Linked DNA regions of Homo sapiens. The protein of the gene in region 1 purifies or fractionates together with the protein of each later gene. This does not show direct contact. Each region holds a gene or a part of one and is shown on either strand. Other genes may lie near its edges. The genes, in order: ZMYM2 and ADNP.

Region 1 (7,000 bases):
TTTAGGAAAAATTAATCTGGCTACAATGGAGTCAAGAATAGGAAGAAACTGCCTTGTAAATAATTCCGTTTTCTAACAGACTAAGGTGAAAGTTAAAAGCATAGTAAGAGCTAAAGATGACAGTAAAGGACACTTAAAGGTCTCAACATTAGTCTAGTGAGGGGAGGTCTGGTGCGGTGGCTCACGCCTGTAATCCCAGCACTTTGGGAGGCCAAGGTGGGCAGATCACCTGAGGTCAGGAGTTCGAGACCAGCCTAGCTAACATGGTTAAACCCCATTTCTACTAAAAATACAAAAAAATTAGCCAGGGACAGTGGCGCGCACCTGTAATCCCAGTGCACCTGTAGTCCCAGCTACTCGGGAGGTTGAGGCAGGAGAATCGCTTGAACCCGGGAGGCGGAGGTTGCAGTGGACCGAGATCACACCATTGCGCTCCAGCTTGAGCAAGAAGAGCAAAACTCTGGCTCAAAAAAAGGAAAGTCTAGCGAGGGGAAGTGAAGGAGGTGGTCATAACTATGAGACCACATTAAGCCCCAGAAGCAAAAATTTTAAATGTTACAGAATTAAGACAAAAAGAAGCAGTTAAAAGATTTGGCAATTAGGTCACTAGCGACCTCAGAAGAGATTTGTTATAGTGTTGACAGTGCAGATCAGACAGTGGATTTCTTTCTAAAAGTATAGGGAAAAGAAGAAATCGTTAGAAAAAGATGCAGAGATTCTGGAGGATAAAGCATTTTTATCTCGATGGAGGATAAAGCACTGCAGACTAATGAAAAAGCCAGAAGAGGGAAGTCGGTGAAGAGAAACATAGAAATTCTTCTAGTCATTACCAGATAAGCACACACTAAGTTTACCATACCAGGTGGTGGCAGCAAATTCATTATGTTTGGTCCATATAAACAGACAGTTTAAGAATTGCAGCTGCTATTAACTGAGCACCTACTATTGGCCAGCTGCATACCCTGTATTATTTTTAGTCCTCACCTCAACAATCTCAGGAAACCAGGCATTACCATACTCATTTGTTAACTGACTGAACTACAGCTCAGATGTTACATGACTTGCCTGATATCGCAAACTGGTAAATACTGGAGCAAAATTGTTTTTAATAGTTATATTAAAGCATAATGTACGTGTAGTAAAATTTACTTATTTTAAGTGAAAGATTTGATAAATGTATTAAATGTATATACTTCTGCAACAATCACCACAATCCAGTTTTATATAACACTCTATCACCCCAAAACTCCCTTCATGAGCAGGGCAGATTTAAGCCTGAATCTGTATGACTCCAACTCATGTCATGCTACAATGAGAAAAATGGCTTTTTTTGGCAGAAAATCTGCAAAATTAAGTCGTTACCCTTCCAATCTTCTCTTAGTACTCACTAGTTCCCTTTCCATGTGAGGCCCTCATATATCTCTAGAACCATACTCACATATCATGATCTCACCAAATTCACGAGTTTACTGTAATTTGGAAACATACCCCCTAAAAGGACAGTATAATCAGACTTTTATATAGGATGCTATTACAGATACTGTGCTCTTTTTTTAAAAAAAGCAAAAGGAGTTAGGAAAAGGAAAGACAAATGAACAGGTAAGTCCAGGAGGAAGACTGAATGAAAACAGAAGAGTAAGGTCCTTGAAAAAGGAAAATGTGATATACAAATAAAGAAAACATGAAATAACAGAAGTCAGGAGTCTGTGTCATGGAAGAGAGACTAACTGGAACAGAAGCTTCTCTTCCATAAGCAATGTAAAACCGTACAGAGACATAGGATGGAATGACTTCCTAGGCAGGAGTTAACACTTATTTGGCTAAGAAACAGGACTATACAATAATAAGACAGACAAAAATCAAAATAAAGTGAGACAATATTCATAGTAAAGTTATAAAGCTAAAACTTGTTAAATTTTATAATCATGATTTTCCTATAACTAATTAAAACAAGTGCAAATTTTTCTTTAGGTAAAAAAACAAGCAGGCTGGGCGCGGTGGCTCACGACCATAATCCCAGCACTTTGGGAGGCCAAGGCAGGCAGATCACCTGAGGTCAGGAGTTCAAGACCAGGCTGACCAACATGGAGAAACCCCGTCTATACTAAAAATACAAAATCAGCCCGGCGTGGTGGCACATGCCTGTAATCCCAGCTACGCAGGAGAAACGCTTGAAACCAGGAGGTAGGGGCTGCGGTGAGCCCTGATCACACCATTGCACTCCAACCTAGGCAACAAGAGCAAAACTCTGTATCCAAAAAAAAAAAAAGAATTATAGACATATAAGAATTCAGGCCTGGTGCAGTGGTTCACATCTGTAATCCCAGCACTTTGGGAGGCTTAGGCAGGTAGATAACCTGAGGTCGGGAGTTCAAGACCAGCCTCACCAACATGTAGAAACCCCATCTCTACTAAAAATACAAAATTAGCCAGGCGTGGCGGCTCATGCCTGCAATCCAAGCTACTCAGGAGGCTGAGGCAGGAGAATCACTTGAACCCGGGAGGCGGAGGTTGCGTTGAGCCGAGATTGCACCATTGCACTCCAGCCTGGGCAACAAGAGAGAAACTCTGTCTCAAAACAAAACAAAACAAAACAAAAACAAAAAAAAAAACAAGCAAATATAGAATTATAAATATATAAGAATTCAGGCCTGGTGCGGTGGCTCACACCTGTAATCCCAGCACTTTGGGAGGCCCAGGCAGGTGGATCACCTGAGTTCAGGAGTTCAAAACCAGCTGGCCAACACGGTGAAACCCTGTCTCTATTAAAAATACAAAAATTAGCCAGGTGTGGTGGTGCACACTTGTAATCCCAGCTACACAGGAGGCTGAGGCAGGAGAATTGCTTCAAGTTGAACCCAGGAGGCGGAGGTTGCAGTGAGCTGAGATCATGCCATTGCACTCTGGTCTAGGCAACACAGCAAGACTCCGTCTCAAAAAAAAAAAAAAAAAAAAGAATTCAGATACCATATCAGGGCCAGAAATAATTAAAATGATTAAAATAAGATATGACAAGCCTGGAACGAAAAAAAGTACAAATCTAAACAGGAGGATAAAATAAAATTTTCATTTAACTTATATTTTCACTTCCACCCAAACCTTTCCTTAGTTCTATAGAACTAGAAACACAATTCACTAAGTCTAGATGAAATGCTCTTCCAAGCAGAGCCAAAGAAACTGCTAGCCCATAATTAACAGAACACATATTTTATGACTATCTAATATATAACAGGTGTTGTAATATCCAATTTGTTAAATCAGTCCCCTGATTATTACCCTGAACACTCTGTCTAGTCCAACTTGATATTCCAAGAAACACTATTCTTCCTAGGAAAAAGACATACCTCTTTGAAATGAATGATTATAAAACTGTTCCAGTATTAGAAGAGAAGTCATTTTTTAATGTTAAGTAACAAAACCCAAAAATTTAGTTGTCAATTCTTACACTAGTAAGTCCAGAGATGGTATCCAGGTGACTACGGCAGAGAGTAATATACACATGTATGGCTATAAAGTAAAAAGAATTTGTCTCACTGTATTATAGTCACATTTTACAAACATTATTCTGTCTGCAACTTCTAACTGTGCATCCCAATGTTACTTAGAATAGCTATGTAAGTATTTTTCTTTTTTTTTTTTTATTATACTTTAAGTTTTAGGGTACATGTGCACATTGTGCAGGTTAGTTACATATGTATACATGTGCCATGCTGGTGCGCTGCACCCACTAACTTAAGTATTTTTCTTATCCAACCTAAATGCATGGTTAGAGACAAATAAGTTTAATGCAAGAGTTTTAACAGATCTTTCCCAACATTTGCATATGAAGTTGCAACAATTAGTTATATTCCTAGCAAATTTATCCTGATTACAATTTAACATTAACTTGTAATATAAAAAAACATTTTTATGGATAAATTTTTAAAAACTCTTTAGACTAACTTATAAATTCACAAAAACTAATCTGACCTTGAAATTCACTAGGAACACTTAGAGAGAAAAAAAAAAATCTGGAACCCTCTGAAAAAGAGAGAAAAACCTAATCCTTGGCAGCCTACTGACATTAAAGAGAACGGTCTAAATTAAGAATAAACAAAAACAAGATGATAACTTATACTAATAAAACATAAACGTGCAAAAGTTTTTAAAAACCCAACCTACTGGCTGGGCATGGTGGCTCACGCCTGAAATCCCAACACTTTGGGAGGCCAAGGTGGGAAGATCGCTTGAGTCCAGCAGTTTGAGAGCAGTGTGGACAACAAAGTGGGTCCCTGTCTCTACAAAAAACCGACCTATTAAACATGCATTATCTATTTCTGTGAATAATCACTTTATTTTTTTTTTTATTTTTGAGACGGTCTCTCACTCTATTGCCCAGGCTGGAGTGCAGTGGTGCAATCTTGGCTAACTGCAACCTCCACCTCCCAGTTTCAGGTGATTCTCCTACCTCAGCCTCCTGAGTAGCTGGCATGACGGGTGCCTACCACCATGCCTGACTAATCTTTGTATTTTAGTAGAGACAGGGTTTCACCACATTGGCCAGGCTGGTCTCGAACTCTTGACCTCAGGTGATCCACCCGCCTCAGTCTCCCAAAGCTAAGATTACAGGCGTGAGCCACTGAGCCCGGCCAACCAGTTTACTCTTATGTCATTTCTTGAAATAGCAAACATGAATATTTACAGAACATTAATCAAATCAGTAAAACTAAAACCCAACAGCTATACCCTTCTTTCAAATTAAAGAGCATTGATTTTTCTTAAAATTTATTACTTCTAATTTTCAATGGACTGTTATAAAGTTAAAAATAAAACAGGACTAAGAACAAATCCCAAAGTCATACTAATCAAGTGATTTTGCTAACCTCTCTGCACATCTTTTTAAACTCTTAAAAAGAGTTTAAAAAATGTTTACGAAAATTCATTCTGCAGCTCCACAGAAGTGCTTCAAGTATTGTGTAAAGCTTGATCCAAAAAAAATTAATATATCTTAAATATGCACAAAAACAACAGATATGTTCAAATGTGTTATAATCCAAATTTTAACACATTTTAAAATGACCAACTCATCTTGTTGCCAAGCATTTGGTGATGACCATAAAGACCCTTTTCATATGTCTATTTTAGTAAGAGACATCAAAGACTACGAAGTGATTTGTTTAAAAAACCAGGTTGTAAATATAAAAATGTGCAACTCCAACTACATAAAAAAAAAAATTCTTGCTGGTATACAACCAAAATAAAATATGAAAATAAGCTGCAACTGTTACTCAGATTGCTGCACTCAAATTCATGGATTTATCCAACAGCAATTTTTCTCATTGACAACTTTGTAAGTGTTATATATTGGAGACCTGCATTAGAACTTTTTGATCTGAATACTTCAAAAGTCCTGTTCACTTCTATGCTTTGACAGGAATATAAGAAAATTAACCAACTGAAGTGTTTTTAAAGGAGCAAAACGCAGGGAGTCAAAGCAATTTATTTCTTCCCTAAATTGAAATGCCCTACATAAAATACTATTTGTGAATCCAATGAGAGAAAACACTTGAGTTTGGGCTCTCCTTGCATTCGCTAAAAAAATCACATGCAGGCCGGCACGGTGGCTCACGCCTGTAATCTCAGCACTCTGGAAGGTTGAGGCGGGCAGATCACCGGAGCTCAGGAGTTCGAGACCAGTCTGGCCAACATGGTGAAACCTTGTCTCTACTAAAAATCCCCATCTCTACTAAAAATACAAAACTAGCCAGGTGTAGTGGCACGTGCCTGTAGTCCCAGCTACTTGGGAAGCTGAGGCAGGAGAATGCTTGAACCCTGGAGGCGGAGGCTGCAGTGAGCAGACATCACGCCACTGCACTCCAGCCTGGATGACAGAGACTCTGTCTCAAAAAAAAAAAAAAAAAAATGGCTGGGCAAGGTGGCTTACGCCTGTAATCTCAGCACTTTGGGAGGCTGAGGCAGGCGAATAACTTGAGGCCAGGAGTTCGAGATCAGCCTGACCAACATGGTGAAATCCTGTTTCTACTAAAAATACAAAATTGGTCAGGCACAGTGGCGCATGCCTGTAATCCCAACTACTTGGGAGGCTGAGGCAGGAGAATCACTTGAACCCAGGAGGCAGAGGTTGCAGTGAGCCAAGATCACATCACTGCACTCCAGCCTGGGCAACAAGAGTGAAACTCCATCTCAAAAAAAAAAAAAAAAAAAAAAAAAATATATATATATATATATATCCCATGCAATTTGAATAGCCCAGTCTTCTCATAATCAACGACATTTATTATGATATATATTAATAATATTGTCAAATGGTATAGAGACATATTAATGCTAGAGAGACAGGAAATATAACAATTCTAATTATACCATGCCTTTTGACACCAGGGTTTCAGCATTTCATACCCATTCTTCCCATCACATTAATACCAGAGCATCTGACTGAAGGTAAAGATTCACTTTGTCTCAAATGCATTAATATTAAATTTGTACACTTCTGTACCTCAAACAAGGGCAAAATACAATAAAACTGAAAAAATAAAAACTGTTGTTCAAAGATAATATAAGCTCTATATCCACACAGAAGTTAAAAATGTTCATATGTCAGCATATATGTCATACTTGAGTGATTCAGGATTGTCTCACCACATGAGATACAAAAGCCCAGCCCATGGAAAAGTAGGGACCACTTTATATCTTCCTCCCAACAATTTAAAAGGATAGGTGGGAGGGAACAGATATTAGAAAGGATGCACTAAAGAAATATGCCATAAATATGCAAAGTATTTTTAACTGTCAAAATACTTTGTAAATGGATCTAAAAGCATTTACATATGTTCCTACTGTATAATAAAAGTACTTATTTAGTCAAGGCCAATTAAAAATCATCAGGTTATCTTCATCTTACTGTCTAGCACATAGCAGCATCACTAGTTGCTGTTTTTAAGTAAAGAAATGTTCAACTCTAAGCTAAATCGTTAAGCAAAACAAGAACCATTCTGGTATT
Region 2 (12,692 bases), on another chromosome or scaffold:
GCCGGTGAAGCCGCCTCTCCCACACCCTCCGTCTCCTCCCTCCGCCCCTCCTTTGTCTGCACCGCTCGACGACGCCGCCGCCGCCCGCCGCTCTGCTGCGCCCGCCGCGCCCCCCGGCAGCACCCGCGGCCGCGGCGCGAGCCGGAGTCCGCCGAGCCGGAGCGCGACGAGGCCCCGGGCGCGCCCTCCCCGCTGCCGCCACCGCCGTGCCGCCGCCATCCGCCCGCCGCCGCCGCCGCTGTCCGGCCCCCGAGCACGCCGGCCCCGCGCGCGCCTCGAGGCCGAGTCAAGGTAAGCCCGGCGCCGCCGCGCGCGGACCCGCGGCCCTGCCCTGCCTGGCTTCCCGACCCCGGCCCGCGCGGCCGCCAGTGCAGCCTGGCCCCGGGCGCGGGCGCATTGTTGTTCGCATCGCCGCCCTCCAGCCGCACACACGCTCCTTTGCACACCCCGGCGCCGACGGGTCCCCCGTCCCGGCACGGACCGCTACCCGACTCTGCTCCGGAGGTCCAGGCGCCTCCTCCTGCAGCCCGACCCCCTTCTCCGCCCTGTGAGCCCACCGAGGCCAGCACTCTGCCTGGCCGCCCGGAGCTTTTGCAGCTAAGGGCATCTCCCCCAGCCAGAACCGAGCTTCTCCCATCCTGGAACTAATCCCGTCCGCCCCCCACCCCCAAAAGGAGCCCCCCCACGCACACCCCCATGCCTTGAACCAGCCTTCTGCCAGGTCTGCCCACCCTTACCTGGGGGAGGGGGGACGGGGTTGGGGGGGGCGGGGAGCATGCATGGCATGGAGTGAGTCTTTGCCTCCCCTGTGCAATCCTTCTTCCCCAACCTGCCAGCTTTCCTCTTATCCTGACCACAGTTCACCACCATCCCTTTTCCCCAATCTCAGCTGCCTGGTCAGCACCTCTTTCGAACATTCTGAGCCCCAACTTTGCAGTAAGGTGGTAGAAAATGGAAATCCAGAGAGCTGCAAAAAGATTTTTTTTTAATGTAATGAATGGGGAGTAGTTTTGTGAACACACTCGTATTCACCTCTTCTTTCCTCTGGGAGGCCTGCCTGCCTTCCCCTCCCCCCCAACCTTGATCCCTGTCTGCTGGAAAAGGCGCGATTGCTTCTCTTCCTCTTCTGCCCAAGACCAAGACTCTAGGTCTGATATCCTTTTTAGCCACACACACACACCCCCCACACACGAAGTCTTCTTAATCTTCTTGAATTTACCAGTTACTCTGGACACTTCTTGCCATAACCCCATTTCACAGACAAAGGCTTAGGAGGGAAAAAGAACCAAACTGTTTCTGTGTTTGTCATGTTAATGATGTCCATCCCCACACACCCAGTTCCCATCCCTGATGCTTCTTGTGCCTGTATCTTGAACCTTCAGAATGAAAAAAAAAAAAATCTCTTGGATAGCTTGATACAGTTTCTTTAGAAATCTGCATTGTTGCTTCTGGTTTATGGCCATGGAGAAAATACCAGCCCCCACCCAAAATGCACCGCAGCCAAGTCGGCTAAAGGCGATGAGTGTTGGAGTCAGTAGGGGGCGCATTCTCTGCACTGGGTAAGGCTGCAGAGGGGGGAAGGGCCCCCGAGCTAGAACAGGATGTGCTTCACAGCGCCTTCTACAGACCATGGGAAAATGGGCCCAGCAAGACACACTCGCACTCTTAGTTGGTGAGCTGACAGCAACATGGCGAAGGATTAAGTGAGTCAAGAGCAGTGATTTTACTTCTTTTAAAGAGCCCACCCTGCATTTTAGAAGTTTTCTCCTTTTACTTTTTCAAAACTGTTGGCCCCCAGTCCATATTTGTTCTTGACGAATCACCTTGGCACATCCTTGGTTCGGATTCCCTTCCTCTGGAGTTCTTCCACCTCAAGTTTTGAATGTGTCACCATATCTTTCCTAAGTCTGGTGGTAAAGGAGAAGGTTTGAAACAAAGTAACAGGTTTGGGGGCATAGCTGGTTAACTCCCTTCTTCATAGGCCAAATCTTTCCAATTCTTTGAGAGTTAAAAATCATTCTTGAGAGATGTTGGATTAAGTGTGTAGATGGGTGTCATGATTTGCAAAGCCTTGTTGGTAAACATCAAGCCCATGTTGGGTTCTTCATTGTCGAACTCAAGTGTTGATTGTAAAAATTTCGTTTCCCTCCAAATTTGGACTTGTAATTGCCATTCATTATCTCAGCAGCCAACCACCTTTACAAAAATGTTGATACCAGTCTTCTGTGAGCACCCACCTTCTTAGGGTGTGTTGATTTCCATAGATTTTACTCCTCTTGTTATTTCCATAGGTGTGAGATGCACAATGCGAAACCTAGGCCCCAGCTTTTACACCATGATGCGCAGGGTTGTACTTTTTGTACTGAACTGATAGGTGGCCTAGTGGTTATGCCCTGTACTACCATTTTGAGGATCTGGACTCCGTTTCCTGCCTTGCTCTTTGGACCACATTGTCAATTCACACCGGTGGGTATATTCATTTTGGAGGGTGGGAACTGCAGCAACAGGGAAGCCAGAGACTTCCTTCTCCTTGGTCACCACCAAAACCAACACTTCCAAAATTTCAGCCTAGCCACATTCCTCAAGGAACCGGTTAGAGCTGGTTGCAGTAGTGGGTTCTGAACACTTATTAACATAAGAAATTACTTACAGCTTTTTTAAGAGAAATTTTTACAGATGCTAATATTGTAATCATTTGCATTCTACACCCCTTTGTATAAAGTATAAGTATTCAGTTACTATTACTTTGATAACCCAATCTCTAGAGTTGCTAAGCTTCTAAAAGCCTTAAATGTCTGATGAAAACATGGTTTTCCATGAACTTGTTCTTGCTACCAAAGATTGACAGTGGTTGATGTTTGTGGGTACCTTTAAGACTTTGTATGTTACATAAATACACCAAGATAAGTTTATGGAGAACTGAATGGGTGTATTCTTTGATACCTAGTTAACCAGTTGGTGCTTAACAGGAGAATTTTTCATTGGAGAATTGCTACCAGGTAACATTTTGGTGAGTGAAAAGGAGGCCCTTTGGTACAGGTATTTGACTAGAGACATTGCTTCTACAATTTCTTAGTCATTGTGAAAAATCACATATTTAAATGGGATTATTTAAATTTTTAAATACTGTATAGTATTTGTAGGCAGGTATAGTTTTTATCTTTATTTGGTGTTTTATATGCAGTTATTTAAGTTCTGAAAATGACCATATAATTTGAAGACAACTTATTTGACGGAATGTTTGAAATGAAGTTTGTTGAGGGGCTTTTGTTTGATTTAGCGAATGGGATACAGTGTTGAATGATGTCCTAAGTGGTAACAGCCATTTTCCCTTAAAGGAAAACTTGCTGTGAGCTCTTAGAAAGCATGTATTCTACTGTTTCAAAGGTTTCTTGGTTTTAACACTCAAAAAATAAGGTGAGGCCAGGTGAGGTGGCTTACGCCTGTAATCCCAAAACTTTGGGAGGCTGAGGCAGGAGAATCACTTGAGGCCAGGAGTTCAAGACCAGCTTGGGCAACATAATGAGACCCTGTCTCTACCAAAAAAAAAAAAAAAGTGAAACAATTGGGCTTGAAGACTGGAATTTATAGTAGGTAAACTATATACTTCATTAAAGTATAGTAAAAGGTTCAATTAACTAGAGTGTGGGGAATGGGTATTCTGTTTAACTGAACTTTAAGTAGAAATTCCTTTTTTATCTTGGCCTTTGTTGAAAAATTTCCTGAGACTAGCTTATTAGGAGCTATATATTGAAACTAACCTCTTTGATTTTGGTTTTTATAGTTCCTGTATAGAAAATATAGGAGATTGGGCTGAAAATCTCTTAATGACCCTTGGCCCTTCCAACCTTGGAAGTCATTGATTTTATACATGCCCACTGTGAATTTGCTTTGCTTTGCTTAAGTTTATCTTTTTCTCCTTATACCAGAGTGCAGGAAGAGTTTTAATACTATTTATATTAAAATAAGAACTTCACAACCTTGAACAGATGGTTTTGGTACCACTTGCAAGTAACCAACCAGTAGGCTTTTATCAGGCAAAAATGGCTTATTATTTATATTTGATTATTAAAAGTATAGGTATATAAGGCATACTATGTGAAGTTGTTGCTTTCCTTGTAACTACTTACACGTTTTGAAAGTATTAAAAAGTTAGTATTTTGAAAACTAAAATACTCAAGTTTATTGATTAAATAAGATGATGCTGGCTACAAATTTTATTTTGAAAATTGCAACTTAATAAGGAAGATAAAGCTGTTTTGTAAAGGAGAAAGTAGAGATTGATACTTCATAGGGTAAAAAAAAGAAAAACTTCAGCATTTATGTTTCTTCTTTTGAGAATCATATATAAGTAACAAAACTGCATAAATTGCAATAGACCTAGGTCACTTGATTTCACAATTGGGTGTGTGTATGTATGTACACATACATATAAAATATATGTAGGTTTTCTAGAGCTGGAAATGATTGTCATATTATTAAATACAGATGAAAAGTTCAAGTATCACGTGTAGTTTGGGGAAAGTACATTTAGTTTTGAGATGTAGTTTGGGGACAATACATCTAAGTGTAGTAAAAAAATACCAGAATTAAACTTTATGTATGTATTTTTTCCAAGTAACCTATTTAAATCTTAGTGAAATAAAGATTTTTAAAGTAATATGAAAGAAAAAAATAGGAAGTTTTTATTTTACAACATTAGAAGCATTATTGTGGTTTACACCAAAGTACCCATGACTGTTGTGTAAATAAGCTACTTGTTCAACCTGGAGTTCCAAAGGAGTTTTTAAAAGAGCATCATAAAGTCAGTTATGTCTTACATAAGGTAAAATAACTTTCAGTGGGAGTTTAACCTTCATTCTCTTGACTGAGAGGCATGTACATTAAGAGAAACATTGCTCCCCTATGTGTAAATAATTTAATTATAGTTGGATTCACAGAGCTTGACTTGTTATTAGCATCGTATAAACTTAAAGTTTTTCCTCCCCTAGTTTTTGTGTGTTGTTTGTTTGTTTGTTTGAGACAGTCTTGCTCTGTCTCCCAGGCTGGGGTGCGGTGGCCCAATGTCGGCTCACTGCAACCTCTGCTTCCCGGGTTCGAGTGATTTTCCTGCCTCAGCCTCTGAGTGGTTGGGATTACAGGTGCCTGCCACAACGCTTGGTTAATTTTTGTATTTTTAGTAGAGATGGGATTTCGCCATGTTGGCCAAGCTGGTCTTGAACTGCTGACCTCAGGTGATCCGCCTGCCTTGGCCTCCCCAGGTGCTGGGATTATAGGCGTGAGCCACCGCTCCCAGCCCCTCTCCTAGTTTTGTAAGAGCTTGTGATAGTAACTGGAGTAAATGCCGTATTTTGCTGATGTACCTCACTGCCAGTTAACACCTTCTATGTTGTTAGTTTGGAAACTCGGTGTTTGAAACTAGTATAAACCAAAGCCCCATGCTAATTAACTGAATTGATACTTTGAATGTAAAAGCTGTTTCTTGTTTTTACTTTGGCACTTTCCACCTTGATTGTTGAGATACTTTATTTGATAAACCGTCCATGCTTTGCCCATTGTGGGTGGCCATTGTGATTTCATGGTTTTTTGTTGTTTGTCTGATCCTGTTTATTAGAAAGTGAGGAGAGGATGATTATGTTCCTTCATCCTCTCAGTGTCTTAGTACTCCCTACACCTGCGTTATGTTATGACCTACCTTTGCGATCTGCCAGTTTTGGGGTCAGCTTAAGTGAGAATTCATATTCTGCTTCACTGGAATGAGAAGGCTCTCCTCACATATTATCATGCTTCTCAAGTTGGTATATATGAGCCAACTTGATTATGTAGTGTGTGTGTGTGTGTGTGTGTGTGTGTATAGGAAGTCACAGATAAAAATTGAGCCAACTGTGGAAAGTGACAGTTTTGATTGCAGGGCACACGTTTTTTTATTCTAATCAATGAAAAATGCAAAATTCATATTACTGTTTTTAGTCCTGGGTCCTGTCATCTCTGTGTATTAATTCAGTCCTCTGCCTTAAGGAGTTCCTTGAGATTTCACTCACAAGCTTTGGTATTATTGATCCCTACCTTGGTTCCAAGACAGCAGCTAGAGAAAGCCTGGAACCTCTCAAGAATTTCAGCAGTGTTCTGGAAATAAAGATTTAGAAAATAAGAGGAAAGCATAGACAACGTTGGATGGAGTTTACAAAGGGAAGCCTGCTCTGAATATATGCCACAGTTTTAGATTTAAGTTAAAGATTTAATTTAAAAGCATACACGTAATCTAAAAGAGTCATGCATTATTTGACCAGCTGTTAGAATTAAAAATGAATCTGCATATCCTAATACCCTCTTCAGTAAGGGTATAGATTTGTAATTGAGTCACTTAGCTGTGGGTTGTGTTTATATGTCACTTCTCATGTGACTGTGATGACTTTAATAAGGATGTGCTGCTTAAGTGTAAAGGCCCCCTTGCTGGCCTTTATGGTATTATAGTATTGGTGGCTTGTCTGTTTTATTTTCCAAGCACTTTATAAACTATTCCCAATTTTCTCAGGACTATCCTTGTTTCACAAGTAGGGAAATCAAGGCACTACCACATACAATGATGAAATGAGCCACAGAGTATGTCTGGGCTGGTTCCCAGGCCTGTGCTTGCAACACAGGCCTTTATGGTGCTCTTGTAAGCTGTTTGGCTAATGGGGGCTCACATGAATGCTTCCCATTTCACAGTGAGGTTTTATGCTTCCATGTGAGCTTAAACCCAAGGATTCCAATGGCGTCTACATGTAAAGAAGCTAGCCACACCCCCAGCAGGGAGAGTATGGGTGTAAATTGTGCAGGTGGCAGTTAATTGGAGTAGCATATTTCTGCTGGGAAGTTAACTGTATAAGAATCTAAAAAGAAACGTTGTTTATGTTCCCTTTTCTTTTCCCAGTTTTTTAGTTTAAGACAGTCAGTCTGTCCTGAGCAGTTACTTTTTTCTTAGATAATTGCTGGCTTTTACCCTTTCTTTTTCTGAATCCTTCATGCTCCATTTAAGAGCTTGTGGAAACCTGTGCTTCAGTTGACAATCTGTAAAGCTCTGCTCTTCTGGTGGAAGCTCATGACCTGAGAACCTTTTGAGTGGTCTCTTTTGAGAAACTCCTGTCTAGTGGAAATATGGTGGAATTTATTAAAATTTTCAATTCGAATTATAAATTTAGGTTGACAGAATCCTTGCTCTTGTGAAAGAAGTGAGCTGAGACTGGGAGTATCCAAATGCAAGAAGTGCTCAGAATCCTGCTTCAAGATCAGTTACACTTAAAAACAGCAACAAGAGGATGGGTGCGGTGGCTTACATCTGTAATCCCAGCACTTTGGGAAGCCAAGGCTGGCGGGTCACCTGAGGTCAGGAGTTCAAGACCAGCCTGGCCAACATGGTGAAACCCCATCTCTACTAAAAATACAAAAGTTATCCTGGTGTGGTGGCACTCACATGTAGTCTCAGCTACTTGGGAGGCTGAGGCAGGAGAATCACTTGAACCTGGGAGGCGGAGGTTGCAGTGAGCCAAGATGGCACCACTGCACTCTAGCCTGGGTGACAGAGTGAGACTCAGTCTCAAAAAAAAATAAAAATAAAAAACAGCAACCAAAAAAAATGCAAATAAAACTTCTCTGAGGAAAGTGTGAAAACTTGAGCCATCAAGTGGCAAAACCTGGTACAAGAACGCTTTTGAAAAGCTACCTTCGGTGAAGCCTTGATCCTGGGAAATGGCTTCGAAAAACTTGAGAACATAGTTTAAATATTCTGTTACTCAAGAATAGTGAAAGAAATATATTTCCTATTGTGGGAAATTATTTCTGAGTAGTTTCGGTAGAGCATAAAAATGTATTATTAGGGGATCAAAATAACGTTTTATGTCATTTAGATACAAAGACTTGGCATGCTTCTGAAATAATTTATAAATGGACATATCTGCGTGTCCTCTTGTGGTGTTGTGATACATACTGGTTTTCATCCACCACGGTTCCTGGCTCATAACACCCATAACCCCATTACCGTGTTTTGTTATAATATAGGGTACGTTAGGTCTCAGAAAATAATCTCTGATCTTCTCCTGCTCTCCTTACACGTGTCCCAAGGCAAGATTCTGATCTTTACCCAGCTTTCTGATTGTAGGTCTTGAGATCCTCTCTAGAGAGAGGGTGTTGGCCCTATACCCCGGGGAAGGGAAGTAAGGTTTCCTATATGAAGCTTTTATAAAAACCCAGGAGGGCCAGGCGCGGTGGCTCACGCCTGTAATCCCAGCATTTTGGGAGGCTGGGGGCGAGCAAATCACAAGTTTAGGAGTTTGAGACCAGCCTGGCCATCGTGGTGAAACCCCATCTCTACTAAAAATACAAAAAAAATTAGCTGGGTTTAGTGGTGGGGGCCTATAATCCCAGCTACTCAGGAGGCTGAGGCTGGAGAATTGCTCAAACCCGGGAGGCAGAGGTTACAGTGAGGCGAGATTGCACCACTGCACTCCAGCCTGGGGGACAGAGTGAGATTCTGTCTTTAAAAAAAAAAAAAAAAAACGCAGGAGGACTGGGTTCAGAGAGCTTCCAGATAGTTGAACACACCTGGAGGGTGGCGCCCCCAGAGAGGGTATGGAAGCCCAGTGCCCTTACGCATTTCTTTATCTGTACTTTTTATAATAAACCGGTAAACATAAGTGTTTCCCCAAGTTTTGTGAGATGCTCCAGCAAATTAATAGAACTCAAGGAGGGGGTCTTGGGAACCCCAGCTTGAAGTGTCAGTCAGAAGTTCTGGAGGCCCAGACTTACAGTTGGAGTCTGAAGAAGGAGAGAGCAGTTTTGGGGACTGAGCCCCCATCTTGTGGAATATGACACTGTATCCAGGTAGACAGTGTCAGAACCAAATTAGAGGATACTCAGCTGGTGTCCGCTGCTTGGGAAAAAACCCTACACGTTTGGTCACAGAAGACAACTTCACGACTTCTGTGTGGTGTGAGGGCAGAGGAAAAACAAAGTTTGAGAGTTTTCCCCTAAAGCACCCCTTAAGGGCTACTTGTGAATTATTTCCCTTTTTCACATTGATCTTAAGCCAGATTGTCCACTTACAGCGACAGCAAGTGGCTGTATGCCTGTGGAGTTCTTATGTAGGCAGTGGAGTGCTAGAATCACTCTTTATGCTGTGTCCCTGCCTTGCTGCAATACCTGTTTAGAGTGAAGTAAACTGGGAAGTGCTCCTCACCTCACACTCTCCCTAAATCTAAATTGGTATATTATAAAGTATCCTCAGTCTGTTTTTCTTGTTTAAGTACCGAGGCATCTTCCCCCGCTTTCAAATACAATTTTAGGTGAACTCTTAAATTGATGAAGGGTCGGGGGGCCAGACCTCTGGCTGCCCAGCTTTCACCTTGTCCCTCAGGCATCATCTTCCCTCTGTTTGTATACATATCTTAAACTCTTAGAGGAGTTCAGCCTGAAAACAACTGGTTCTACTGGTGTACTGGAAATTCTGGTGGTCACTGCTAGAATTCTTGCCTGAAATCTGAATACGGAAAGTATCAGGATAAGCAGCAACACAGTAGCAGTTTTCCAGTTGTGGGCACCAGTCTTGTAGTCTGAAAATCTTCCTAAAAGACCAGTGACTCCACATATTTTTTAAAACTTAAGATACGCAAAATCTAGATGACACCTTTATGTTTCTACATAACTGTAAGTCACCTGGGTTTATTTAAGATAGTTGCAGATGTTCAGTTGCCTAAATATTTTAAGTGTCACTGAGCTTGTTAAGAATATGCAAACCTGAGTATGAATGGCTCACACAGATGTAAAATATTGTATAAAAACACTACTGTGCATGATGCATTGTAATGTGTACAGGAACAGATGTTGTTATGGCAACCACATCTGATTCTCAGTCATAATAGTTTGAGCTTTTTGGAGAGGTTATGCCCTGGTGTGAACTCAGAATTTTGAAAGTGATTATTTTAGTATCTCATCTGGTTTAAGGTGATAATGGTAACTGACTTAAGCATTAACTTGCATCATCTCATTTAATCCTTCTGCCATTAAAACAATGAGATAGTGTCCTTCTGCTTATGCCATAAGAAAACAGACCTCTAGAGGTTAAATAACATGTGTAGGATCACAAAGCTTGTAAGTGGCAGAGCAAGGATTTAAATACAGATCTGTCTAACTGTAGGGTGGACCACTGCATCTTTATTTTCTAGCAAAGAAAAGCTTTACTGTGCTATGTCACCCTACCTCTTGTTAAGGAGGTTTGAAGTTATAAGGTACAAATTTTTTACATATGGCTGATAGGTAAGTTTTTGTCCAGGAAAATAGTATTATTAGCACAAATTTTGACTTAGGCTATAAGCTTCACCTGTGAACCTTTTCTTTTCCCCTCGTTTTACTCTTACCCCAGTATCCTATTATCTCATACCTAAGGCAGTGATGGTTTCTCAGACCTCTTAGATTGAGAAGATGTGGCATGGGTGTAAGGTCCCTCAGGTAATTCTGAGGGTTGGGTAGGTCTGGTATCTACTCTTTTACTTAATTGACTTCCTCCAGGCTTTTTTTTTTTTTTTAATGGAGTCCAGGCTGGAGTGCAGTGGCGCGATCTCAACCTCTGCCTCCTGGGCGCAAGAAATTCTCCTGCCTCAGCCTCCCGAGTAGCTGGGATTACAGGCGCTGGCCACCACACCGAGCTCATGTTTGTATTTTTAGTAGAGATGGGTTTCACCATGTTGGTCAGGCTTGTCTCAAACTCCTGACCTCAAGTGATCTGTCTGCCTTGGCCTCCCAAAGTGCTGGGATTGCAGGCATGAGCCACTGCTTTCTTTTTCTTTCTTTCTTTCTTTTTTTTTTTTTTTTTTTTTTGGAGGTGGAATCTCGCTCTGTTGCCCAGGCTGGAGTGCAGTGACTGCAACCTCCGCCTCCCGGATTCAAGCAATTTTTCTGCCTCAGCGTCCTGAGTAGCTGGGATTACAGGCGCACACCACCACGCCCGGCTAATTTTTGTATTTTTAGTAGAGATGGGGTTTCACCATATTCGCCAGGCTGGTCTCGAGCTCCTGACTTCGTGATCTGCCCATCTTGGCCTCCCAAAGTGCTGGGATTTCAGGCATGAGCCACCACACCCGGCCTGGATTAATCCTCTTAAAGTGCCATTAGAATCATGTCCCTTCTGTACTTCGTTACCTGCAGCATCTCCTCGGTGCCTACCAGACATGGCAGCAGACTCCAGCTTCACATTCAAGATCCCCATCCTATCCTCACCCTGCCTTTCCAATCATGTCGTTCCTTGTTACTCAGAAGCTTGACATAGCAACCATTCTGACTCAGTGGAGTTGAGCAAGAAGTTCCTAGAACACCTTGCTTTCCGGCCTCTGGAACTGCGCCAGAAGTCTTTTGCAGTAAATGCAGATTCTTCACCTAAGTTAATGGCCCCAACTCAGCAGCTGTTGCCACCCTCCCTGCTGAGAATGAACTAAACATGAAGCCTCCTAGGATTTAGTTTGTGACACATCTGATACATCGCCTCTTTTACTGCAAATATTTATTGGATGTCATATCTGTAAGCCTTTTCTAGGCAGAGATTCATTCATTCTGTCTGAATTTATTGAGTGCCTGCTTTGTTCTAGTCATTGACATAGATGATAGAGATACAGCAGGGAAAAAAACCAAAGTTCCAGGGTCTCCCTTTGTAACGCAGGCTGGAGTATAGTGGCACCATCATAGCTCACTGCAACTCAAGCCATTCTCCCACCTCAGCCTCCCAAGTAGCTGGGACTATAGGCATGCACCATCACACCTGGCTTTTTACATATATATATATATATATATATATACACTTAAATATATGTATTTTTTCAGGCTGGTCTTGAACTCTTGGGCTCAAGCAATCCTCCCACCTCAGCCTTCCAAAGTGCTGGGAGCTGTGAGCTACACCTGTGAGATGGCACCCTTGTCCTGCTGCATATTTTAAGAGTTCTGTTTAGTCCATCAATTGAGGTCAGGAAAATGAACGTGCTGAAAGATAATATGTAATGATAATAATTTGTAGACATAAATGCCAGCCGTGTCTGTTAACTATTTCAGGTGATATTGTACTAAATCTCTGAAATCACCTGTGATGAACTTTTAAAATAAATAAAACTTTTAAGTCACAGTGTGATTATAATTTTTGTATAATTGGTAGGTAATGTGATGAACCAGGCTGTTTATTTACCATTAGATTGTTGGTTTGCTATAAATGAACTACACCAGCATGAGAGAAAACAAAACTTCCTTAAAGTGCTAAAATTAAATTTTTCATCATTCTGTTACCTTTCAAAAGCTTTCCATTTCATTTTTCCCAGGACCTCTCCTCTTGTTCTTCTACTTTTGTAGCGGAAACTGAAGGTAATTTGAAATTTTAACACATGGGAATTCTCTGAAGATCTTTTCTCTACTGCCACATGCTCAAGTTTGCAAAACAAGGTAGTTGAACGTCTCACTGAAGTAACCCAGCTGTACTAAATCTATTAGTTAAGGCAGAGTGAATCAGGGCCTTCATTGCCAAAAGTAATATAATATCCTGTTCCTGGCCTCTTGGAGTGGAGCAGATTTGCCAATAACGTGAACACTCTACCATTTTTTTTTCTTTAAGTACTTAAAGGTTTTGGGGCCACCTAGGTTCCATTAATGTATTACCACTCATATTAAATGATTATAGT

The links.
Region 2: the proteins of ZMYM2 (region 1) and ADNP purify together in Homo sapiens (affinity purification with mass spectrometry; 2 studies listed by BioGRID and IntAct, with this or other methods). This does not show direct contact.

The regions. Positions count from the first base shown.
Region 1 is NC_000013.11:19,961,727-19,968,726, reverse strand, and holds part of ZMYM2 (zinc finger MYM-type protein 2), read right to left. Parts: intron 3,508-7,000; coding exon of another isoform or gene 3,446-3,507; intron 439-3,445; exon of another isoform or gene 325-438; intron 1-324. UniProt on the Homo sapiens protein: Involved in the negative regulation of transcription.
Region 2 is NC_000020.11:50,918,425-50,931,116, reverse strand, and holds part of ADNP (activity-dependent neuroprotector homeobox protein), read left to right. Parts: 5' UTR 1-291; intron 292-779; exon of another isoform or gene 780-2,291; 5' UTR 2,292-2,298; coding exon of another isoform or gene 2,299-2,466; intron 2,467-11,860; exon of another isoform or gene 11,861-12,335; coding exon of another isoform or gene 12,336-12,378; exon of another isoform or gene 12,379-12,434; coding exon of another isoform or gene 12,435-12,456; intron 12,457-12,692.